Homo sapiens: one gene and its partners. The protein of the gene in region 6 purifies or fractionates together with the protein of the main gene of each other region. This does not show direct contact. Each region holds a gene or a part of one and is shown on either strand. Other genes may lie near its edges.

The links.
Region 1: the proteins of NANOS2 (region 6) and CNOT9 purify together in Homo sapiens (affinity purification with mass spectrometry; 2 studies listed by BioGRID and IntAct, with this or other methods). This does not show direct contact.
Region 2: the proteins of NANOS2 (region 6) and MINK1 purify together in Homo sapiens (affinity purification with mass spectrometry; 2 studies listed by BioGRID and IntAct, with this or other methods). This does not show direct contact.
Region 3: the proteins of NANOS2 (region 6) and IL36A purify together in Homo sapiens (affinity purification with mass spectrometry; 2 studies listed by BioGRID and IntAct, with this or other methods). This does not show direct contact.
Region 4: the proteins of NANOS2 (region 6) and CNOT2 purify together in Homo sapiens (affinity purification with mass spectrometry; 2 studies listed by BioGRID and IntAct, with this or other methods). This does not show direct contact.
Region 5: the proteins of NANOS2 (region 6) and CNOT8 purify together in Homo sapiens (affinity purification with mass spectrometry; 2 studies listed by BioGRID and IntAct, with this or other methods). This does not show direct contact.
Region 7: the proteins of NANOS2 (region 6) and GPBP1L1 purify together in Homo sapiens (affinity purification with mass spectrometry; 2 studies listed by BioGRID and IntAct, with this or other methods). This does not show direct contact.

The regions. Positions count from the first base shown.
Region 1 is NC_000002.12:218,589,339-218,592,838, reverse strand, and holds part of CNOT9 (CCR4-NOT transcription complex subunit 9), read right to left. Parts: intron 536-3,500; coding exon 437-535; intron 224-436; coding exon 132-223; intron 1-131. UniProt on the Homo sapiens protein: Component of the CCR4-NOT complex which is one of the major cellular mRNA deadenylases and is linked to various cellular processes including bulk mRNA degradation, miRNA-mediated repression, translational repression during translational initiation and general transcription regulation.
Region 2 is NC_000017.11:4,895,451-4,898,561, reverse strand, and holds the end of MINK1 (misshapen-like kinase 1), read right to left. Parts: coding exon 3,069-3,111; exon of another isoform or gene 3,068-3,068; intron 2,865-3,067; coding exon 2,730-2,864; intron 2,560-2,729; coding exon 2,459-2,559; intron 2,370-2,458; coding exon 2,220-2,369; intron 2,134-2,219; coding exon 1,974-2,133; intron 1,889-1,973; coding exon 1,749-1,888; intron 1,359-1,748; coding exon 1,275-1,358; 3' UTR 501-1,274; downstream 1-500. UniProt on the Homo sapiens protein: Serine/threonine kinase which acts as a negative regulator of Ras-related Rap2-mediated signal transduction to control neuronal structure and AMPA receptor trafficking.
Region 3 is NC_000002.12:113,003,960-113,008,258, reverse strand, and holds IL36A (interleukin-36 alpha), read right to left. Parts: upstream 2,801-4,299; 5' UTR 2,388-2,800; coding exon 2,378-2,387; intron 2,286-2,377; coding exon 2,172-2,285; intron 1,662-2,171; coding exon 1,522-1,661; intron 428-1,521; coding exon 215-427; downstream 1-214. UniProt on the Homo sapiens protein: Cytokine that binds to and signals through the IL1RL2/IL-36R receptor which in turn activates NF-kappa-B and MAPK signaling pathways in target cells linked to a pro-inflammatory response.
Region 4 is NC_000012.12:70,323,433-70,326,932, reverse strand, and holds part of CNOT2 (CCR4-NOT transcription complex subunit 2), read right to left. Parts: intron 1-3,500. UniProt on the Homo sapiens protein: Component of the CCR4-NOT complex which is one of the major cellular mRNA deadenylases and is linked to various cellular processes including bulk mRNA degradation, miRNA-mediated repression, translational repression during translational initiation and general transcription regulation.
Region 5 is NC_000005.10:154,868,627-154,872,126, reverse strand, and holds part of CNOT8 (CCR4-NOT transcription complex subunit 8), read right to left. Parts: intron 1,467-3,500; coding exon 1,305-1,466; intron 398-1,304; coding exon 253-397; intron 1-252. UniProt on the Homo sapiens protein: Has 3'-5' poly(A) exoribonuclease activity for synthetic poly(A) RNA substrate. Its function seems to be partially redundant with that of CNOT7.
Region 6 is NC_000019.10:45,912,714-45,915,969, forward strand, and holds NANOS2 (nanos homolog 2), read right to left. Parts: upstream 2,066-3,256; 5' UTR 1,981-2,065; coding exon 1,564-1,980; 3' UTR 501-1,563; downstream 1-500. UniProt on the Homo sapiens protein: Plays a key role in the sexual differentiation of germ cells by promoting the male fate but suppressing the female fate. Represses the female fate pathways by suppressing meiosis, which in turn results in the promotion of the male fate.
Region 7 is NC_000001.11:45,680,034-45,683,533, forward strand, and holds part of GPBP1L1 (vasculin-like protein 1), read right to left. Parts: intron 1-3,500. UniProt on the Homo sapiens protein: Possible transcription factor.

The DNA of each region.
Region 1 (3,500 bases), on a different chromosome or scaffold from region 6:
TGTCTCAGACAAACTAAATGCAGTTATATCCCCACTTCCCTGTCCTAAAGACACAGGAGCTATGCCATGAGATTAGGAAACTGTTCAGCAGAGTATTTCCCTAAAGTCCTATACATCCTATAAATGTTTACCTGGGGTTATCTGAAAGTCGAAGGTAACATCTCACTACATGCTTCAGCAGACGGGCAGAAGGCTCTTTGGATAGCTGCAGGACCATCTTACCCTGTTTCCCCCAAAATAAGGGGAGGGGTTGGAAAAAACACACAAAACACAAACAAATTCTAATTGACATCAGAGATCAGATAGTCCAAGAATCATAAAAGGTTCCAAAATTGTTAGTTCTAGTCAGAGGACTGAAGTTGTTCAATGCCAGTTATAAAGAGATTAAGCTTTGTGATGAGAAGTAGTTGTAAAGGGGATAGATGAAAGAACTCACCAAGATCATGGCAACATGGGAGAAACGCTCATACGTCTGACATATATAAGCCAAACCAGTGTCATCTAACAAGATCTTCTGGAGGATGAATGTGGCAACCTGAAGCAAAACAAAATCGAAGAGTTTATAAAGTTGCTCAGATTTAATCTTCTCATTTTCTACTCATTTTCCCAGGCATGACTATCAGTCAGAAAATTGAGCAAGCAGGGATCCTTGTATATTATGTACAACTTTATCATATATGTATAGTACAAAGAATAATAAATATTACCATGTTGAACATTACTTTGTACCAGTTTTTTTTTCTAGAGGCTTTACATGCTTATCTTATTTTTATAATAAATCAATGAGGTAGGTACCATTATTATTCTCACTTTACATACAAGGGTAGGTTCCGTGTAATTATCAAATTCTTAAAAACTCAGAGACCTTCTCATTTACAGAGTACCTACTATGTGCCCGGTATAACTGTTAATCAATAATGCACCAGGTTAAGGTCCCAAGTGACAAAGTTACTATGGCACAGCTGAGATCCAAGCCTCATTTGAATATCTAAGGCTCTTCTCTTTTCCATAGGCCAAGATGATTTATTCAGCTATGCCTCCTCTCTTCCAGATGAAGTAAGGCCTTTCTTTCTTTTTTCTTTTCTTTTTTTTTTTTTAGATGGAGTCTCACTCTGTCGCCCAGACTGGAGTGCAGTGGCTCCATTTCAGCTCACTGCAACCTCTGCCACCCTGGTTCAACTGATTCTCCTGCCTCAGCCTCCCGAGTAGCTAGGATTACAGGCTCCTGCCACCATGCCTGGCTAATTTTGGTATTTTTAGTAGAGACGGGGTTTCACCGTCTTGGCTAGGCTGGGCTTGAATTCCCTGACCTCGTGATCCACCTGCCTTGGCCTACCAAAGTGCTGGGATTACAAGCGTGAGCCACTGCACTCGGCTGAGATAAGGCCTTTTTTGTTCTTAAAAGATCTTGAAGAAATAAGATTTTCACGCTTCTCTTTGAAGATTATCTAACAGTAATAAAACATATCCTGGCTGTGAAGCTTATATGTGGCCTCAATTTTTCCCTCAACTTGAGCTCATTAGCTCTTACATAAAAGAGATATTAAAATATTAGTTTAATTTAAATTAGACAATCACGATAATGATACTCTTTCTTGGCTGCTCATCAAAATGAACTGTGGAATTATTTTACTATTTTATTGGGGTTATAACACTGTAGTAGGCTGAATAATGGCTCTCAAAGATATCCAGGCCCTAATCACCAAACTCTGCAAATGTTACCTTAAATGAAAAATGGGACTTTGCAGACGTGATTAAGTTAAGGATCTTGAGATGGGGGATTATCCCTGTTTATCCAAGTAGGCCTTAAATGTAATAACGAAGTGTCCTTAAAAGCGATGTAGAGAAGGCCAGGCAAAGTGACCCATGCTGGTAATCTCAGCACTCTGGGAGGCCAAGGTGGGAGGACTGCTTGAGGCCAGGAGTTCAAGGATGCAGTGAGTTATGATCATGCCACTGCACTCCAGCCTGGGCGACAGAGAAAACCCCATCTCTTAAAACAAACAAACAAACAAAACAACAACAACAACAACAACAACAAGAGAGATGTAGGGAGAGATTTTACCACAAAGGAGAAAGCAATGTGACAAGCAGAAAGAGATTTGAACATGCCACATCGCTGGATCTGAAGAGGGAGGGGGCCATAATCCAGGGAATGCAAGAAATGCAGTTCTAGAAGCTAGAAAAGGCAACAAAAAGACTCTCCTCTATATCCTCCAGAGAAAGCATGACCCTCCTGATACATTGACTTTAGATTGGTGAAACTCATTTAGAACTTGTGACTTCCAAAACTATAAAACAGTAAACTTCCATTGTTTTAAGCCACTACCCTTCTAGCTTGTGGTAATTTGTTATAGCAGCAGGTTATATAGGAACCTAATATAAACTTACACACAGTGAAGTGTGTTAAGTGCACTAATCTTAAGTGTACCTTGAATTTTTACCTATGTACACATTATGTACTATAACCAGATTAAAATACAAAATATTGTATAAAATACAGAATATTTGGGAGGTGGAGGCAGGCAGATTGCCTGAGCTTAGGAGTTCAAGACTAGCATGGGCTACATGGCGAAACTCCATCTCTACTAAAAATACAAAAAATTAGCTGGGTATGATGGTGTGTGCCTGTAGTTCCAACTACTCAGGAGGCTGAGGCATGAGAATTGCTTGAACCCAGGAGGCAGAGGTTGCAATGAGCCGAGATCACTCCACTTCACTCCAGCCTGGGTGACAGAGTGAGACTGTCTCAAAAACAAAAAACAACAACAACAAAAAAAAAAACAGAAAAAAGCAATATTTCTACCAACTCAGGATTCCAGCATTCCCTTGTACCTTTCCCCAGTCAATGTTCTTTCCTCAGAGCTAACCACGAATCCAACTTATTGCCAGTAATTGGCTTTGCTTGTTCTTAAACTTCACATAATCAACATACAGTATGAATTCCCATGTGTCTGGCTTCTTTTGCTCAACAATGCCTTTGACAGTCATCCATATATTGAATATTTAAAATAAAAAGCTTAAAAATAGCCAGGTATAGGGATGTGTGCCAGTATCAAAGCTACCTACTCCAGAGAGGGAAGTGGGAAGACTGCTTGAGCCCCGGAGTTCAAGGCTATAGTGTGCCATTATCATGGCTGTGAATAGCCACTGCATTCCAGCCTGGGCAACATAGTGAAACCTTGTCTCTTTAAAAACAATAAATTGGTCAGGCACAGTGGCTCATGCTTGTACTCCTAGTACTACGGCAGAAGGCAGGAAGATCCTTTGAGCCCAGGAGTTCAAGAGTAGCCCAGGCAACATAGGGAGACCTTGTCTTTACAAAAAATAAAAATAATTAGCTGAGTGTGGTGGAGCAGGCATGTGGTCCCAGCTACTTGTGAAGCTGAGGTGGGAGGATCAACTGAACCTAGGAGGTCGAGGCGGCAGTGAGCCATGCCTCTCTACTCCAGCCTGGGTGACAGACAGAGATCCTGTCTCTAAATAAATAAATAATTTAA
Region 2 (3,111 bases), on a different chromosome or scaffold from region 6:
CAGGGGTCAGCAGGAGGAAAGGGTTCACATAGGCTCTCAGGTGCCAGTCTTCCAGAAAGCAAGGACTGCCCTTCATTCAGCCTTGCTGACCTCCCAGCCTTTCTAAGGCTCAGCCCCACGGGACTCTGGTGGCTGCCAGCTTGTGAGCTATCTATCTATATTCATTTCATAGCCAAACAGGAGACCCCTTTGCAGGACTTGCACACAGGGAGGCTGTAGCCAGGAAACCCTCTTCTTCCCTGGTCTGGCTCTGCTGGAGCGGGTGGGAACCAAACACCTTCAGTGCTGGTGGCCCTCAGGCCCACAGGTTTAAGGCTGAGGCTGCCCTGACCCTTCCACAGTCATTTCTTCTAGGTTTTCTTGGCCCAGCACTGCCCATCCCACCCCATGAGGCTCACTCATTGCAGATCCCAGCCCACCCTGCCCCTTTCTTCCCCACCCTGGAGGCTCTCTCTGCCTAGTCTACAGTACTGACAGAAAGCAAGGACATGCGGCCTGCATGGTGGGAGCTGGTTGAATTGTCTTTATTAACAAACAGGATATCCAAGGCCACTACATTGAGGAGGGGTGGGGGGGGAGGGAGAAGGGTTACTTGCTGCTCACACTATATACAGATGCAAGCAAGGGGCGTGGAGAGTGAGGGCTCCCTGCTCCCTCCCTCCACCGGGGAAGGGCATGGGCTAGAAGAGGAGAGGGGGGTCGGGAATGGGGGGAATGTTTTGGCTGGCGGGGTCCCCCCTCCATTCCCTGGAGTTTGGGGGAAGGGGAATCATTAAAGTGCTTTCAGAAAATGAAGAAATGGTCCCTGCCCCTGGAGTGGCTGGTGACCCCCCAAAAATCTAGGGCCCAGTGACCCCCCCCAGGGTCTGGTACATTCAAGGGGGGAGCCGGCTCCCCTGACGTGCAAATAAAGGGGTCCAGGGCCCTGCCCAGTCAGCAGCAGTGGGGTAAGGGGTTCAAGCCCCAAGCACTCTCCTCTCAAATGGAGAAAAGGGGGGAGGGGCTAGGCCCACTCAATTCCTGGGAAGGGGAAGCTGTGTCCCTCCCCAGAAGCTGGGGACAGGCACAGTTTTGGGAAGAGGACATGTTGGGGAAGAGGATGGTCACGTGATCACGAAAGCATCAGGGGTCAGAGGTCACGTTCCCAGCAGGCTCCAGTGAAATCAAACCAGTAAAAGCAAAAGCCCAGGGAGGGGAAAGAGGGGCGGCCCGGGAAGCCTGGCTGCAGGGGGAGAGCTGGGTCCAGTGTGGGACAGCCCCAGCCCAGGGCCCCGTCACCAGTTCATGATGCAGTTACGGTTCAGAGTCATGAAGTAAACTTGGCTGCTGCCCCCAGAGCGGACTGAGGCAAAAAACACCTGGGTGGGGCAGGAGAAGAAGTCACCAAGGGCTGAGGTTGGGGGGGTGTCTCAACTGGGAGAGGGAAAGAAGGGAAGAAGGGGTGGCAGAAGAGTTGAGGGAGACACAGAGACTGCAGGAGGAGACTCACAGTGCCCCTCACCCGGAGGAAAGGCAGGCTGGGATGTTAGGGGAGAGGGTGCACCACTCGCCCCCTGGGGGCCAGCTGGGAAGTCCTCGGAATCTGAAGGGAGCGCAGGGCAGTGGTAGTGGCTGACTGCCCTCTGAGCTCCCAGAGGGGCCCGCTTTCAGGAAGCCACCACCACCATCCTCTCCCCAGAACTCTGCCCAGGGGCCTAGGGTCATGGCAGCCGGGACAGCAGGGCTTTCAGAGGGAAGGAGCCTCCCACCTTGTCATTCCGCTCACACAGGAACTTGAGCCTCTGAGCTCGTTTGTGCATGAAGACCCCGTCGAGGTGGCCCGTCTCCACAGAGCGGATCTCAATGGCTTTCTCACCCCAGCCCATTATCTGGTTGGAGCAGATGTAGGCTGTGGGGAACAGGTGAGGGGCTGAGCAGGCTGCACCCCGGGGCCACCTCGGGGCATGTGGCTGGGAGGGCGGCAGCTCACTCACCCACAGAAGTAGGCATCTCCCCCCACTGCAGCACCACATCCTTAATGATGCGCCCGTACGTGTTGACGTAGACACCCTCGTCCTCGTAGCACAGCAGCATCTCCATGCCGTCGGTGTTGGGGAGGAAGATGATGGCATGGGGCGTGATCTGGCTCTGGATCTGGGGAGAAGGAGGGGGACTAGAGTCTCCGTGTCTGGTGCCCAGACTGGGCCATCCCACTCCCCCAGCAGCCCCGCCAAGCTCACGTGCACAGGGATGTAGATGTCATAGCTGTTCCCCGAGTCGACATCCACAGCATGGAAGCCAGCACTGGAGCCATAGATGACCTTGAGCCGCTGCCCCTCCTCTACTGTCAGGTCGACCAGCAGAGGGCGGTGGGGGAGGTCGGCAAAGGACTGCAGAGAACCGGAGGAGAGGAGGGCTCAGGGGCACGGGGAGAGGCGCTGGGACTCCAGATGGTGTTAGGGACCGAGGCTGGGATTACCTTGAAGGCCATGAATTTGTGGTAGGGTTTGGGGGCCCAGGCATACACCTCCACGGAGCTCTTGAGGGCGATGACCAGGAACTTAATCCGCTCGTATTTCACTGGGGGCGGGAGAGAAGAGGGATGCTGAGACTTCCCTTCTTGCGCCACGGGCGCCTCCCCGTGGTCTGTCACTACACTGCCCCACCCAGGCCCCAAGTCCCTGGCTCCCAGATCCATTTCTCTCTTCATGAACAAGTATGCGCTGGCCACTCTGTTGGGACATCCTCACCAACACGGTAGTGCCCGCAGCCCTCCATGTCCCCCACGGTGGTCCAGCCCTGCTTCTTCTCCACTTCTGGGTCATTGTGCAGAATCTTGTTCCGGAGCCAGGACAGGTAATACACCCGCAGTTTGTTCCTTTTCCCTGAGGGACGGACAGACATACACACCCGCCCCCATTCTCATCTGAGGCCCGAATGCCACCGCCCTGGCCTCCTCTGTCAGCATACCACAAGGGGTGAGAAAGTGTGGCCCCACCTTCCAGTGCCTGCCCTCCTCCCAGGCAGAAGATGGTGACAGCGCCAAGGAGCTGAGCCCCTCCTCCCTCCCCCACTCACCACACCTGTACCTGAGATGGTGATGAGCAGGTTGAGCCCCTCCAGCACATCCAT
Region 3 (4,299 bases), on a different chromosome or scaffold from region 6:
CTCATGGCAAGGCCCTCAATTTCCCTGGACTATTTTCCACATGGCCCCAGGGAGAGGGACCAGTCCAGCACTTAGGTCACTGCATGAATATATTGGGAGGCAGCAAGATACTCTTAGGTGGAAAGTCCAATAACAAATTCTCCCTGCCCATTCCAGGCTAAGATTATACTAAGATTTTCCCTGCATGGAGACTATCCTCCAAACCCAACTGACCTTAAAACAGCATAGTTAACCCAAAGTCAGTAGTGTTGGCTTTCCCCAGTTCTTGGGTAAGGATGAGAGGACAGCCTCCTTCAGAGCTGACAGCGATGAACCAGCCAGGGAAAGCCACAGACTCGAAGGTGGAGTTCCTGCCACTCTGGCTGTGGTAGAAGAGAAAGGACTTCACAGGCTCGGGTTGGTTGTACAAATCCATTATATCCTTTTCCTGAAGGGTGCGAAGGAGACACCAGCAAGAAACATAACTGTTTGAATGTTTCACATTCTTTACACACTGATATTCCACGTCCAAGGATAGCATTCCCTACTCATTGAAGCAGCTTGGAGACCTCTGTTTCATATTATGGGATTGAAAATCATATAAATTAAATTCTTTTAAGATTATGGTTGAAACTCAGGCTACAAATTTTAATGGTTTTTAATGTGAGGCTCTGAAAAATGTGTTGACATGAAAGTTTTTGAGAATACAAAGCATTGATTGGGCCATTATTTGTTGTTCAGAAACAGAAACTTAAAGAATATTTATGTAACAGTTACTGTAAATTTCAAATTAAAACAGTTATTTTCTGTCAGGTTTCTGCACCTTCAGCACTATTGACATTTTAGGCAAGATGATTCTTTGTTTTCAGGGTCTGTCCTGTATAATAATATAGGATGTTTAGTAGCATCCCTGTCATCTACCCGATAAATGCAAGTATCACACCCCCATCCCAGGTTGTCACAACCAAAACATCTCCAGACATTGACAAATGTCCCTGGAGCAATATCACCCCTGGCTGAAAAACACTGTTTTATATCTTGTCATCAAGTTGAGTGTCTGCTTATGCTTGTTTACTGAAAAGGGTCAAGAGAGTTCCTGTAGTACACAGAGGCCTGCTATAATTATCTTTTTTTAATAATGGAAAATTGCGATTATTGAAGTGTTTATTACAGAGAATTATGTTTGTTCATTTAAAGTTGCAATGTATTTTTTGCCAAAAAGATGTTTTAATAAGTTCGTCTACTTTGTGATAATTAACTGCTAAAATGTCCTTGCTGATTTTACTCTGTGTGTGTGTTCTATTGAAGTTAGACATCATCCTTGCCAAATTATTAATATTTTTGTAAATTAAAATAATAAGTCATTTTAGTAGGTTTGTTTCAAAATGTCCCTGCAATTTTTCTTAGTCTTTCATAACATATACCAACCCCAAGGAAACCAAAAATAAAAATGCATGAGCATAATAAGTACATTGTCTTTTAAAAGATCCTGAAATCTGAGTTTCCATCAAATAAATGGCAGGACCTGTCTTCCACACTCACCTTCAGCTGCAGTGTGGGCTGGTCCCCGACTTTAGCACACATCAGGCAGAGATTGAGTCCATTCAGGCCCAGGTAGATGGGGTTCCCTCTGTCTTTCTCAAGGGTCTCCACATGTCGGCATGAGATTAAGGCAATAGTGACTGGGAACACGATGTGAAAAGTGGTGTTCAGCTGCCATTTCCAGGGTGGTACCTCTGAGCCAGAGTTTTAAGGGAATCTGCTAACTGACACTCACAGTGCACTCATAGAATGGTCACCTCACCACCCACCACCTAACCGGGACACCCATCCTATGTTTGGGGAACACTTTCCATTAGAAAAGTCAGTCTTTCATGGATTCAAAAACTGGTCCTCCCATAGATTACCCTCTTTTGTCCTACTCTTACTCCTTGAAGTTTCTCAGAATACGTCTTCCACTGTTTTTCATAGGCTGACCCTTCAGTCTCCCTTAAGCCTTCTCTCTCTTCTCTGACTTCATGACCATAGTCCCAGAACAACCTTATGCTCACCCTCTATTCATTATTGTCTGTGAGATGCTCCTCTCTGTAGATATGCCCGGTTAACAAGCCCACTGTGGAATAACATCTGAGCACCAAACACACAACAGCACTGGCCAAAGGAGCTGCCTTTCACAGACCGTGGCTACTCACCTGGAGACATACGGTCCTTCCTCGGGACTGCTATGAGCGTCTGGTCCTGAAGAACCCACACCCGATGATTGATATCCTGAATGCTCCCCTGCTGAGGTGTGTCAATTTTCAATGCTGTTGAGAAAGTCAAAATGTAAATTAGTAAGAATGAGAGCACAGAATATCACCCCCTTGTCAATTTTTCGCCCTTCCACGAGGATCTTTACCTTTTTCCATTGTGGTGGTGTTGTTTCAGAACTGCCAAGGATAGGAGTCCTTTTATGTGCAGACCGACCCCAAGAGAGGACCTGAGTCAGTCCCAAGCCACAGTTTAACCCTGGGTCAGATGAAAGACTGGCGGCCAGCCCAGCAGTGACCCCAGTCAGAATCTATACTCCCAGAACTCACCCAGCACCCTTACTTTGTTGGATGCAGTCTACCTCCAGCAGAAGCAGCTGCACCTATGAATCCTGCCCAGGCCTAGACCCAGGAACTCTAATATGACAAAGAGTGCCAAGGCCAAAGACCTGGAAGCAAAAAAAATCAGAGGTCACCAGACTTTCCAGCATAGGCCACACTGATAATCTGTTACGAAGGACCCTGTATCCCTACCATTATGAACAATGGCTTCTACTGCACTTGGGTTTTCTGACAGGCTGTAACAGGGCCCAGGCCTTTTATCCACATGGGCAAGGAAGGAAGTTCTGCCTCACTAAGTCTGGCACTGCCCAACACTCAGGATATTTTCTAGTTCCTGATGCCAGAGGATTTAGTGACTCTTTATGTGAACAGCATGGTTAAGACTTCTCCAAGCAACCTGAAACATGAGGGCATGCTAAACTTTTAAGAGCAGGAAATATAGTCACAGATACTGAGTTGAGAAACATTACGGGACTTCTTCCGGGTCAATGACTCATCTCTGATGCCACAAAATGAAACGATGGAATTATTCCTAAGAGTGGGAGCCCTCAGTAAGTGCAAGGTAGACTGAGGAGGGATAGGTCTCTTAAGACCTCTGTAGCTTCTAATCACTCCTGGTCCACAGGAACTATATTCTTGGTCAATTTCAGACCAGAAGCCCACTCACTCCAGTGACCCTCCTCCAGCTTCTCAGAGCCACTGTGCATGCTGCTTCTCCATGGAAGAAGGGAGTATTACTGTAGCAAAGCCAGCTCCTGAGCACTCTAGCCACCTCAATGGACTCTAGATCACTATCTCTAGTATAGGTAGCGTGATAGTAAATTTTAAGTGTCAATTTGACTGGTTTAAGGAATACTTAAAGAACTGGTAATACATTAGTTTGGGGTAAGTCTATGAGGGTGTTTCCAAAGAAGATTGGTGTGTAAGTCAGTGTACTAGTGGGGAACATCTACCCTCAACGTAGGTGGGATCCATCCAACTGGCCGGGGGCATGGATGGCATGGAAAAGACAGAGAAAAGGTGATTTTCTGTCTCTCCTGGAGCTGGGGCATTCTCTCCTGCCTTTGGACATTATAACTCCAGACTTTGGACTCCAGGACTTAATATCAGCATCTCCCTGGGTTCTCAGGCTTTCTATCCCAAAGTGAGAATTACACCAGTGGCTTCCTAGTTCTGAGGCTTTAGGACTTGAACTGAGCATGTTACCTGCATCCCAGGGTCTCCAGCTTGCAGGTGGTCTGTCATGGGATTTCTCAGCCTCCAAAATTGCATGAGTTCATTCCCCTAATAAATCCCCTTTCATACAAGAGGTCATCAAAAAGTTCATGGAAAATGCATATTATGAAAAAAACTATGCATGGATTTTGAATTATTTTGCACCAAAATAAACTCCTACTAACTTGTTATAAGGTGTTTGAACAGGATCTAGTTTGAGGCACTAAGAAAGGTAAGACATCAGTTTGAAAAGAGCCCCTATAAGATCAACATGAATTCTTCTAAAATTGAAGCAAGAACAAAAATCAAATTTATGGTGAAACTTGGGTGGAAGAATGGTGAAATCATTGATGGCTTATAAAAAGTTTGTGGGGACAATGACCCAAAGAAATCAGCAGTTTACAATGGATAACTCATTTTAAGAAGTGAGACAATATTGAAAATAGCACCTGCAGCAGCAGACCATCCACATCACTTTGCAAGGAAAAAACTAATCTTTTTGTGCCCTAGTTGA
Region 4 (3,500 bases), on a different chromosome or scaffold from region 6:
GAACTGATTTTAGTGCTAAAACTGGACAGAGACCGTATGGAATAAAGTAACTTACTTTCAGTGTTTAATTTTAGCTTTCTAAAATTAATCTTCACAAAAACAGCTAATAAATTCAAAAAGTCTAAGTTTAATTTTGTTGAAGTAGTATAAAAAGATCAAAAAAGAATATATCACTTCAAATTGGATCATCAACCCCTGAATACTTAATAATTGTTACTTTAAATTTATTTTAAAAACTGAATTTCTTTAAAACATAAAGAATGGCACTGGAAAGGTATATATAAAGATTTGTTTTTTGGAAACTAAATATACTAAGTCATTAACTTTGAGTTGCTTGAGTCAAACTAACACAACTGAATAGGGTCAAGGGGAAAAAAATCTAATCTCTCACTAGTATAATTAGAAACAATCACAGAAAAATCATCTCTAAAATATTATGCCAAGAATAGGACATACAGCTGAAAAAAAGAAAAAAAAAGAAAAATGGGAAGAACTCAAGGAGTTTTTCTTGGCATAAAAAAACTAAAACAGGCAAAAATATAAATATGTATAAATGAGCTTGTATATGAGCAGGTGACTGGAAGGACAGTAAAATTAAAATTTATTGGGCACTTATCAACAAAGCACTATACTACTTCCTCTCAATTCCTTCTTATAATCATCTTATAAAAAAGGTTATCACCTTTTTACAAAGAATAAAAACAAATTTTAAAAAAAGTTTAAAAGGTTATAATTTTGAGTCAAATTTTTCTTTCAATCTAACAATTGATAATAACAACACAATATTAGGAGGACTATACGAACACATTCTAAATAGATTCCTACCTCTTATCTGGCAGGGTGTTAGTCAAATTCCTTATTGATCATTTTTCAGAAACCCTTAAAGAATATGATCTAAGAAATTATTCCATTAATTATTTCCACTGCACAAACTGATTAACAGCACATCACTTAAACACTTATGGCAAAATACGTCATTCTTTATTCAATTTTTTGCTAGAAATAAAAAATATTAAGTTACATGAAAAAATAAAATCATAGCAACCAAATCCCTGAATATTCATACTTAAATAAAGTCCCCTAAAATCTTTATAGGGGCAGGAGAGAGTAGTCCTTAACTGATGCCTTAAAGTGTCCCCTTTTCCATTTGCAAAGCAGCCAGCTTCCTCTAGGAACTCACTGGCATGCCCATACTAAAAAGGACAACATAAATGGTGCTTTATCTCAATGGCTTCTTACCTTCAACCTGTCTTGCACTTAGCTGGTTAATGATTCCTGTAAAATTATTTCCTTATGCAATTTTCTTCATTAAATTCAAAGTATTTTAGAATAGAAAAGACTCCAGAGATTATCCAAGTAGGTTACAGATAAAGAATTCACACTAGGCATTAAGTGACTTGCTCAAGATCACAAGTAATGAGGCATTAAAGACAATGATCCAATTTCTTGACTCCTATTTCAATGCCTTTTTTGCAACCAATATCATTTTCCATTTTTTAATGGTAGTTAATAATGTTTGCATCATCCAGGGAACTTTAATGTCTAGGTCTCCTCTCCAGCAATTGTGATTTTGGGCAATCATGGCAGTGGAATTTTAAAAATTCCCCAGGTGTTTCCATGGGTGCAGTCAGGGTTGAGAACCACTGTTCTAGAGTATTAAAATTCTGTCAAGACCCAAAGATGTTTTCTAACCTTAACAAGCATTTTACTCTGTTTACACACTACATATCTGATTTATAATCTTCTTTCTTCTTTCTCTATTCCTTTCCTCAAATCTGTCCTTTACTACTCATATCTAACTCCTCAGCAAGAATACTTTCCCTTCTCTTGTTCTAGAGATATAAAAGACTACTTAAAAATAAATAAGTGCTATGACCAAGGTGTTTACATGCAGTAGACATAGCGTGCTTGACTGCTTGTAGGAGGGACCACACTAACTCAGACTTGGGAATAGAGTGAGTCTGGAAGCAGAAAAATTTTCCTGGAGGAGACAGAAGATAGTATATGAATTAAATAACATATGAGACTCAGCCAGGTGTTTGGTGGTGGCAGTGGTGGGGAGTCAGGTGGGTATAAATGTTACAATAGTTCAGTCTGAGAGAATGACGAGATATATGAAAATGAGGACAAGTTATACACCTGGCGGAGGAACAGGCTTTGCCTTCTAGGTGCTAAGAATGTATAAGACAAGAAACATGGATGGAGCTAAGTGGCTTCCACAACTATGAGAAGTGGCTGCTGTGCTCGAATCAGCTGAGAGTCTCAACATCTGGCTGGATCTTTAGAGGAGTGCCACAGAATCTTTACCTGTGGAATAGCTGTGTGGATCTCCCAAGTACACTCTACACTTCCTCAACCTAAATTTCTGCTCTAGATTAGTGGCACTCATTCACAAAGGTTTGCAGGTCGGAAACCTTAGAAATCATTCTTGATCCCTTTCTTTCACTCCTACATCATCAAGTCCTGTTAGCTCTATCTACAAAATGTACCAAATCTGATCACTTCTCAACACCTCCACTAGTCCAAGTCATCCCATTTTTTTTTGCCTGGACTACTGCAGTATTACTAACATTCTCTCTCTCTCTCTCCATAAAAACAGGACATTTGTTATTTGCTATATTCTTATCTATATCTTGAAATAATACCTCATTCATTGTAGGCACCCAATAAATACATAATTATTAGAATGAATACATTCTATCACAATGTCTTAATTCAACAGATTCTTGGCACCTGTGGATTTAACACTGGTAGTTTCTACTATGTACAAATGGCTTTCTAGGGTCATGGCATTCAGGTATCAAAGAAACTGATGTTTTCAGCTCATGTTCACATAGTTACTCTTACAAAGTAATATAATCCTGGTTCTACTACTTACAATCTGTGTAACCTTGAACAAATTCCTTAAACTCTTGTGGAGCTGCTGTGAAGGTTAAATGAGTTAATTCACATAAATACTTAAAATCGCATCTGATACACAGTAGATAATATTCAATAAATATTAGCTCTGTGTGTGTGTGTGTGCGTGTGTCATACTTATGAAAAGAAAGCCAACAGGTGGTACCAAAAGTGAAGATAAAATAAGATAGTCTAATCAAGTGATGGTTTTCACACACACAAAAAGGATGTTTTATGGTGGAAAATGTTATTCTATAGCTGTGTTCTTGAACTTTAAAAGTAGCAATGATCTTGAAATAAATCTCTCAGAAATGTGAAGACTGTACTTCTTGCTGAAATCAATATAACAGCCTAACAGGTGTCTCCTGTCTTGATAAAGTAGGCCATTCCTAAATCTATCCCATGCTGTGGATGTTATTCCCACTGCTAAAACAACTTTACTCACAGTCTGTTCAATGCTAATCTCAAATATAATCTCATCAGTAAATTCTTTTCCTAATCATTTTCCAAGATACCTGATTACTCCTGTCTTTGAAATATCCAAATAGTCTACAGCCGTACCATCCTGAATGTGCCCTATCTCATCTGAAACATCCAAATAA
Region 5 (3,500 bases), on a different chromosome or scaffold from region 6:
TCATTAGGTTCATGGCCCTCGAGTGAAGAATGCCTGCCTTAAGATGACAGAAGCAGAGGGTTCCCTTCATGGCCAGGTTAAAGATCGTTACCACACAAATATCTGACCAAATCAGCTTTATATTATACCCTGTCTACCACCACACTAGCATCTAGTACTCAAAAATGCATGCTGAACACGTAACAATAAAGCAAAGTCAGCTTTTTTTCTGTCCTTCTTTTTGTTACTGGTATTAAGAAAAACATCATATACCTTAAGATTTTTGCAGCTCTTCATCAGGTATTTCACATCATAAATGGATGGGAAGAAAAGGTTCAGAATATGAAAGAATTCATGTTCCTCTTCTGGCAAACGAGAATCTGTAAGCAACTTTACCATATAGCCAAAATCATAGCCACTACAAGAGAATAAACCACAGAGGTTAAAAAAGCAGTGGTTATCAGGCCCCAGTGTTCAACCATTTTATTTCTCAAAGCTTGTAAATGCTACTTCATGTTAGGAACTTTCACTTTTTCTGAGTAGTTTATCGTACTATAATCTGAATCTTTTTTTTTTTTTTTTTTTTTTGAGACAGAGTCTTACTCTGTTGCCCAGGCTGGAGTGCAATGGCACGATCTCGGCTCACTGCAACCTTCACCTCCCAGGTTCAAGCAATTATCCCTGCCTCAGCCTCCCAAGTAGCTGGGATTACAGGCACCCGTCACCATGCCTGGCTAATTTTTGTATTTTTAGTAAAGACAGGGTTTTGCCATGGTGGCCAGGCTGGTCTCGAACTCCTGACCTCAGGTGATCCACCTTTCTCAGCCTCCCAAAGTGCTGGGATTATAGATGTGAGCCACTGCGCCCGGCCTATAATCTGAACTTTCTAATAACAACCTAACAGACTAATATGGGAGATATAAAAAAGTACCCAAGGGGTTTAATTGTAGATTCGATTCACCAAAAATCCAAAAGTACTGAGAAGTTAAAATAAGGAGAATCTGGCTTTCAAGTACCTAAGAAACTCCGAGACAGCCATTTAAAAGATAACCAAGTACTGTGACCCTCTACACCCACCATATTCCCACTTGGAATTAAACCCACTGATAGCCACATGATAGAGCCAAATACTGTGTGAAACAAACCAGTATATGAGCCCCAGTGTTTTGTGAAAAACTGAAACATGGGCAACAAGCACCAATTCAACTTCTGGCTGCTGCTGCTGAACAGAACAGTCACTAGGACTGCAAAAATGACTAAGAATTCAATTCCCTGCTTCAGTGTAGCCCAAAGTGAGAGAGAAATACACATTCCCTAGGACTGACCTATGAAATGAAAGCCATTTGACATTGTCACAGAGAACCACTCCTGATGTCATAAGCAGCTCTGCAAAGTGCAGTGTGTCAATCCCTTCCTCTTCATGCTTCTGAAACTGTAGTCCTGAGTTAGCAAGGAGATCTATGGAATCCTGGGAGTACATGTCCTCTCTAAAAAACAAGGTGTTTATTTATTAACTGGTGAATAATGAAACAGAAGTAGTGGCCACACTATTACCACCACCTTATAATTATAGTACAAGTATTTTTGAAATGCTTTTCCTAACTTAATAGATCAATTCACTCTTTCCAACATTCAAACAAGCATGCAAAGTAGATCATATTTCTGTGACAGATAGAAAAATGAGATTTTCCTCCATAAACTAAATTTCCTAATTATAATAGGTATACATTTGCTCATTATTTAAAAAAAAAAAAAAACCAATAACACCAGGCACAGTGGTGCACGCCTGTAATCCCAGCACTCTGGAAGGCCAAGGCAGGAAGATCACTTCAGACCAGGAGTTCCAGACCAGCCTGGGTGACAGAGTGAGACTCCGTCTCAAAAAAAACAAAACAAACAAAAAAAAAACAACACACACACACACACACAAACAAAGATTAGCCAGGCATGGTGGTATGCACCTGTAGTTCTAACTACTCCGGAGGCTGAGGTGAGAGGATTGTTTGAGGCCAAGAACTGGAGGGGACTCACACCACTGCACTCTAGTCTAGGTGACAGAGCAAGATCCTGTCTCAAAAATAAAATAAGTAGGCCGGGCATGGTGGCTCACACCTGTAATACCAGCACTTTGGGAGGCTGAGACAGGCAGATCACTTGAGGCCCAGAGTTCAAACCAGCCTGGCCAACATGGTGAAACCCTGTCTCTACCAAAAATACAAAAATTAGGCCAGGCGTGGTGGCTCATGCCTGTAATCCCAGAAATTTGGGAGGCCAAGGTGGGCGGATCACGAGGTCAAGAGATCAAGACCATCCTGGCCAACGTGGTGAAACCCTCTCTCTACTAAAAACACAAAAATTAGCTGGGCGTGGTGGCGCACGCCTGTAATCCCAGCTACTTGGGAGCCTGAGGCAGCAGACTCACTTGAATCTGGGAGGCAGAGGTTGTAGTGAGCCAAGCTCGCGCCACTGCGCTCCAGCCTGATGACAGAGCGAGACTCCCTCTCAAAAAAAAAAAAAAAAACACAAAAAAACAAAAATTAGCCGGACGTGGTGGCATGCCCCTGAATCCCAGCTACTCAGGAAGTTGAGGCATGAGAATCACTTGAACCCAGGAGGCAAAGGCTGCAGTGAGCCAAGATGGCGCCACTGTACTCCAGCCTAGGAGACAGAACAAGACTCTGTCTCAAAAAAATAAATAAACTTAAAAAAAAAAAAAAAAAAACCAACAAGGCCGGGTGGGGTGGCTCACGCCTGTAATCCCAGCACTTTGGGAGGCTGAGGTGGGTGGATCACCTGAGGTCGGGAGTTCGAGACCAGCCTGACCAACATGGAGAAACCCCATCTCTACTAAAAATACAAAATTAGCAGGGCGTGGTGGCACATGCCTGTAATCCCAGCTACTCAGGATGCTGAGGTTGGAGAATCGCTTGAACCTGGGAGGCAGAGGTTGCAGTGAGCTGAGAAAGCGCCATCACACTCCAGCCTGGGCAACAGGAGCGAAACTCTATCTCAAAAAAAAAAAATAAACCAACAAAAAAATATTGAGGCACAGATGGTGGGCAGCCAGCTAAGATGACCTGACGCGCCTTCCAGCTGATTCAGGCTGCTTGCCTCAGACTCAGACACCGCCACCATGGCCAGTGAGTCTCAGGGGATCCAGCAGCTGCTGCAGGCTGAGAAATGTGCCACTGAGAAGGTATCCAAGGCCCATGAGCAAAAGACCCAGAGGCTGAAGTAGATCAAAGGAGCAGCTAAGGATGAAACTTAACAGTACCACCTGCAGAGGGAGGAAGTGGTCCAGGCCAAGGAAGCCACAGCCCTGGAATCCCAGTAGCTGCAGCACTCAAGTGGCGTAGGAAGCCCAGAAGAGGACCAGCCTCCAGACCTACTTCTGGCAGAACAAGGCTTGGATAGCCTCTTGGCCACCGTCTGTGACACTGAGCAGAAATCCATGAAAACTACAGCATAAATGGAAAGGAGTGGGAGAAAGAAGTGCCTGTTCCATGAACTGGCGTTTTAGA
Region 6 (3,256 bases):
GCCGAGACCGCACCATTGGCACTCCAGCCTGGGCAGCAAGAACGAAACTCCATCTCAAAAAAGAAAAAACAAAAACCAAAAATAAAAATTACCTGGGTGTGGTGGCGTGCACCTGTAGTCCCGCCTACTCGGTCACCCCGTCTCTACTAAAAATACAAAAATGGCCAGGCGTGGTGGTGCATGTCTATAATCCCAGCTACTCCGGAGGCTGAGAGGCAGGAGAATCGCTTGAACCCGAGAGGCAGAGGTTGCAGTGGGCCGAGATCGCGTCATTGCACTCCAGCCTGGGCGACAACAGCAAAACTCCGTCTCAAAAAAAAAAAAAAAAATTAGCCAGGCGTGGTGGGGCGCACCTGTAGTCCCAGCTATTCAAGAGGCTGAGGGAGGATAATCACTTGAATCCGGGCAGTGAGCCAAGATCGCACCACTGCACTCCAGCCTGGGCGACAGAGCAAGACCTTGTCTCACAAACAAACCAAAGACGGAAACAGATACAGCCATTTCAAAGACGACTAGAAAACCTTTTTATTCACCAGAGCTCAATACTCAGGGTCCCGACCCTGTGCCAAAAACTGAACAACTTAAAATCTGACGGGGGCCCTTCTTCTCTTTGCCCCTAAAATAAAAGCTAGGCCATTGCCATTCCCATCCGGGTACTCAAACCCCCTTCTTATCGGCGGTTCCTTGACTTGAACGTTGGAGGTTGAAAAACACAGGAGGAAAAAAAAATGTCCTTTAGTCAACTATCACGATTTGGGGGGTCGGACGGGAGGTGGTCGAGAGATATGCTTCTCGCTGGGGGAAAGGACCCATCGGTGATTTGGGGATGGGGGCAGGTACCGGGTGCAATGGGCTGAACAAGGGGAAGAACAACCAGGGGGCATTGAAAGGTGTCAGCTCACCCCACGGCTCTCCATCCACAGGTGAGCCTGCGAAGACACGGTGCCCTCCAGTGATACGGTGCTCTCCAGAGTCCTACTCCGCTCCTGACGGATGGGTACTGAGGTCAGGGAAGGAATGAACAGGCGTGGTCCACGATGACACCGTGGTTCTGCAGGAGGCTGAAGATGGAGAAGGCTGGTCTTAAGTCGACATCCCATCTTGAAGTTCTTGAGTAGGCACTTCTCAGCCAGCCTTGTTCAGTATCTCCTAAGGGCTGGCTTGGGACAGCACCGTGGAATCCTGGAGGTTCAAAAATCCAAGAACTCCACAAGGAACAGAGAAGTCGAAGGGGCAGGGCTCCAGTCACCAGCAGGCCCCACGAGGACAAAAGATCCATGAACCGGGGCCCAGAGGGCGCTACAGGGCCGTGCAGGAAGGGTTCCCGCGGCACCAAGGACCCTCAGGCCAACGCCCACAGGCCAGAGCTCCGAGGGCTGACAGGTCCAAGGGGGCGGGGCTGGCCTGGCTCCCAGCAGCCTCCACTGTTTCAGGATCCAGCCAGGGTGGAGTTCTGGGGGCCAGAAATTCCAAAGGGCTGGGTGACTGGAAGAGAGAGTTTAGGGACTTGGGTGGGATGGACCAGGAGGGTCAGGGGTGCGGGTGGTGAGCATCTCACGATGCTCAGCGCTTGACCCTGCGTCCGGCCGAGTTGCGCCCGCTGCGGCGGTAGAGGGACTGCTGGCCACCGTTAAGCGGGCAGTACTTGAGCGTATGGGCCTGGTCACCGGTGGCCCCGCACACGGGACACACGTAGTGCCTCAGGATGGGACACACCACCACGCCATCCGGTGTCTTCAGCTGGTGTGAGGAGTAGACGTGGCGGGACTCCCCGTTGTGCTTGCAGAAGTTGCACAGGGTCCCCAGGCCCCCGTTGGCCCCTGGCGCCCCCAGCCCCTGATCCTGCCCCAGCGGAGGCCCGGGACTTGGCTCCTCAATCTCTTGGGTCTCCAGCCTTTGACCCCGACTTGCGATCAGCGCCCACACCACCTGGCTCAGGTTGAAGTAGTCCTTCCACATGTCGAAGGGTGGCAGCTGCATGGCACCAAAGCAGGGGTGGTGGGCCACAGGAGAGGGGCTGGGGCTGGGGGCCCGTGGGCAAGGGCAAGAGCAGCAGGCGTTTCCCAGAGCAGAAGGGAGCTGCATCCCCTTTTATAACGCCCAGAGACTCTTCTAAGTAAAGGTGGAGCTTAGGATTTAAAGGGCTCACTCCCTGCCCATAACCCCCATCTGACTTTAGTTCTTCACAGAGATGTGGAAGGAGGTCATTCCCCTGATCTCTGGTCCCAGCTCTGCTGCCAAGGTGCTCTGTGACCTCTGGGAAGACACTTCCATTCTCTGTGCCTCAGTTTCCCTATCTGTTCAAAGAAAGTCCATGTCTGCAAATATCCCCCACCCCTAGGCTGGAGGGGCTGCACCCTTCATAGACTTCAGAGTTATTCCTAATCATCATAGCAGCCAGGCTGGGCGCAGTGCCTCACACCTGTAATCCTGGCACTTTGGGAGGCTGAGGAAAGAGGATCGCTTGAGCCCAGGACCTCTAGGCCAGCGTGGGCAAAATAGCGAGACCTTGTCTCTACAAAAAATAAAAAGACAAAAATAATAATAACAACATGACCTGATTTATTTTATTTATTTATTTACTTGAGACGGAGTCTTGCTATGTCGCCCAGGCTGGAGTGCAATGGCACGATCTCAGCTCACTGCAACCTCTGCCTCCTGGGTTCAAGTGATTCTCCTGCCTCAGCCTCCTGAGTAGCTGGGATTACAGGCGCCCACCACTAAGCCTGGCTAATTTTTTTTTTTTTTTTTTTTGTATTTTTAGCAGAGACAGGGTTTCACCATATTGGCCAGGCTGGTCTCGAACTCCTGACCTCAGGTGATCCACCTGTCTCTGCCTCCCAAAGCGCTGGGATTACAGGCGTGAGCCACCGCACCCGGCCTAGTATTTTCATTTTACAGAGAAAGATATGAAGCTTGGAGAGGTTAAGGAATGTATCCAAGGTCACACAACAAGGAAATGGCAGAGTCGGGTTTCATAATCACTCTGGGAACTGGGAATTGATGTTAAAAGTGGCAGAGGAACTTGGCACAGAACAATCTCACTTAGAATGCCCCCTCTTGGGCTAGGCATGCTGGCTCACGCCTGTAATCCTAATATTTTGGGAGGCTGAGGCTAGAGAATCACTTGAAGCCAGAAGTTTGAGACCAGCCTGGGTAACATAGTGAGACCCTGTTTCTACATATAATACAAAATCAGCTGGGCATGGTGGCATGTGCCTGTAATCCTAGCTAGTGAGGAGGCTGAGGCAGGAAG
Region 7 (3,500 bases), on a different chromosome or scaffold from region 6:
CATGCCACTGCACTCCAATCTGAGCAACAGAGCAAGACCCTGTCTCTACAAAATAAATAAACTTTTATCAGTTTCAGCAGCACCAAAAGGCTCTATTTCCCTATGATTACAAGTAAACAGGCTATTTGTAACATTTTCAAAACTATAGTTTTTTTAAACAAATGAGTGATTTAATAGTAGTGACTAACAGATTGAGACACGCTTTTTTTTTTTTTTTTTTCTTGAGACAGAGTCTCGCTGTGTCACCTAGGCTGGAGTTCAATGGCACAGTCTTGGCTCACTGCAACCACCACCTCCCAGGTTCCAGTGATTCTAGTGCCTCAGCCTCCAGAGCAGCTGGGATTACAGACATTCACCACCATGCCCGGCTAATTTTTGTATTTTTAGTAGAGACAGGGTTTCACCATGTTGACCAGCCTGGTCTTAAACTCCTGGCCTCATGTGATCCGCCTGCCTCAGCCTCCCAAAGTGCTGGCATTACAGTTGTGAGCCACCATGACCAGCTGAGACATACTTTTTTTTTTTAAAAAGAATCATTTAAAAGCATCTCTAAAAATCTCTTCTTAGATGAGCTTCACTTCCAATGCAAATATTAATTTTTAAGTTAGAATAGCAAATTCTGGACCTAGATGGCTCTGTCACACACTAGCTGTGTGACTTTGAATAAGTTATTTCACCCCTTTTTGTCCCAAATACCTACCTAATTTGGAGACTCTTGAATTGTTGATTAAATGAGTGAATGTATATAAAGTGTTAAGAGTAATGCCTGGATGTTGTTCCCTGCAAAAAGAAAAAAGAATAGTGCCTAGCCTACAGTGAGTATACCATAAGTGCAAATAATAAAATGCCTAATAGTTGGAGGGTAGAAAATAGGGAAAAAAATTCAGTTTTGAGAAATTTTCAGATTGAATATGCTGAGACAACTATTCATTAGTAACCAAAACCAGGAAACAAGAACACTGAAAACCCATGATACTTGGCTCAATTTTATAACAGAATAAATATACAAGTAGGAAAAAAAAAAGGCAGGAAAGAAACTACCTGGAACAGTTAATACTGAATTGGGCACCAAAGCAAACCAAACACTCCACTTTACTTAGCATCTCAAACGAGAGTAAATAAACCATAAAGTTATTCTATGTTGCCCAACAGAGAAATTGCAAGAAAATGATACAGATGAGAACCACTGAACAAACCAGAAAATAAAAATCCCCAAATACACAGAATCACCTAACAAATTTAGTCTTCTCAGTCTTCTCTATCTCCAAATCAAATCTCAATCTAAGCCTCTATATCCAACTACCAATTTACAAGGAATCAAGAAAATCTAGAATGTGGGAAACTGCAGGACAAATGACCTGGTTTCTTCAACAAAGTACAAGGAAAAAAACTGAGGAGAAATATGCAAATTAAGGCATTTAAAATGGCAGCCAATTGCAGTTTGTGGGACCTAGATCCTGATTCAAATAAATTACAAAGGTCAACAGAAAAGTAGTACCTAAGAAAGAAAAACACCCCTCCGTGTGCAACTCATCTGTGCAGATTTCACTGAATTTCACTGGATTGGTGTGTTAAAGGATGTTCATTAAAGACAACTTCTCTAATAATCATGAAGTTCTTACCGTCAGACATTATTTTAAGAATTATACAAATATTATTTATTACAACAACCCTAGGAGAAGGTACTATTATTGTTCCTATTTAACAGATGAAGAAACAGGCAAACAGTCTCATTTAAATAATTCACTCAAAGTCACAAAGCTGTAAGCAGCAAAGCTGAGATTCGAACCCAAATGGTCTGGCTACAAAGCCAACCACTGATTACCATACTATGCCATTTCTCTGTGTGCTATGGTGGAAACTATGCTTTGGAATCACAGAAAGCGGCCCAAATCTCCATCTCTATGTTACCGAAATTACTTAACTTCTTGGAACCTCTGTATATCTCTTGTAGAAGGGTTAATATCTACTTCTTTAAATAGTAAGGAATAATAAGATTACATAATTGACTCTATTACAGCATCTGAGTTTATGAAGCCCACAATAAATGGTTCCTATTGCCCTTCCTGCCATACATGGTAAGACGAATTAAAAAGTAGAAAAATTTACTAACAGCACAAAAACTGGAAAAGCTCTACTTTCAAATTAACTAAACAGCCCCAAAACCAACTTTTCTATATACTTATAAACTTTAAAGATAGCAATAATTCAGACAATAACTTTTTTATATACCAAACTTTTAAACTTAAGCAGAAACAGAGTTTGCAAGCTCAATTTAAAGTATAGCTAAACTTAACCAAATGAGATTTTTCTGGGGGAAAAAACTTACTCCACACAAATAGACCTACTGCTCAGAAAAGGGTACTAAAACTTTGTTCATTCTGGTGATTCTCTAGGCTGACCTCTGGTTAACAAAAGGCAAAGTGGTTTTTATCTTAGAAAAGGAAGGTGAACTTAATGACTTTGTTAAAATCAACTCCTTTAAGAGTAATTGCTTTTTATGTTATCCTCCAACTATTAAGTATTATCTGTTAAACCGTAAAGTTCTTTGTTTTATGGTCATCTAGATACTCCCAATCCCTAGTTTCTTAACAAAAATAAATGATTGAGCTGTTTTAGCTGAAAAATGATTCAGCTAACAGATCAATTATTTGCCTTAGTAAAGAAAAATAATAGGCTCTTTTAAATGTTTGCCTAGCACGTTTGAAATCACCTATAAAAATTCAATTTACATAACATTAGAAATATATCTACCTCAGTTAAAGTATACCTGTGGACAAAAGTTCAGTTCCTCTTACTGAACTATTTTCCAAGTTTGATTATAGGCTGTTTGAGGCAGATTTCAGTGGGAAATAGGAAACACTAAGTCTGATTTAGAAGTAACTTGGGCAATTAGGTCTCTAACAGCACAACCACGTATTAAATTCCAGACAACAGCAACTACAGCCACTTAGGGGGTATGTTATTTTTCCCCTCATCTATCTGAACAACCATAAATACACCAAAATTTGCCTTTCCCATTAGTTTTTTTTTTTTTAGTTGGAATCCTTTAAAATTTTGTCTGCCTTTCATCTTTTAGACCAACAGTCTTACTTTCATGTTTAAAGGCAGTGACCATAACAGTCAAGTTAAACACAACAACTTAGATTGCCTAAATTTGAATATAGGCCTTTTTTTTTTTTTTTTTTTTTTTTTTTTGAGAGGGAGTCTCGCTCTGTCCCCAGGTTGGAGCGCAGATCTCGGCTCACTGGAAGCTCTGCCTTCCGGATTCATGCCATTCTCCAGCCTCAGCCTCCCGAGTAGCTGGCACTACAGGCGCCTACCACCACGCCCAGCTAATTTTTTGTATTTTTAGTAGAGACGGGGTTTCACAGTGTTAGCCAAGATGGTCTCCATCTCCTGACCTCGTGATCCGCCCGCCTCGGCCTCCCAAAGTGCTGGGATTACAGGCGTGAGCCACCGCGCCCGGCCTGAATATAGACTGTTACCTACCAGCTGGA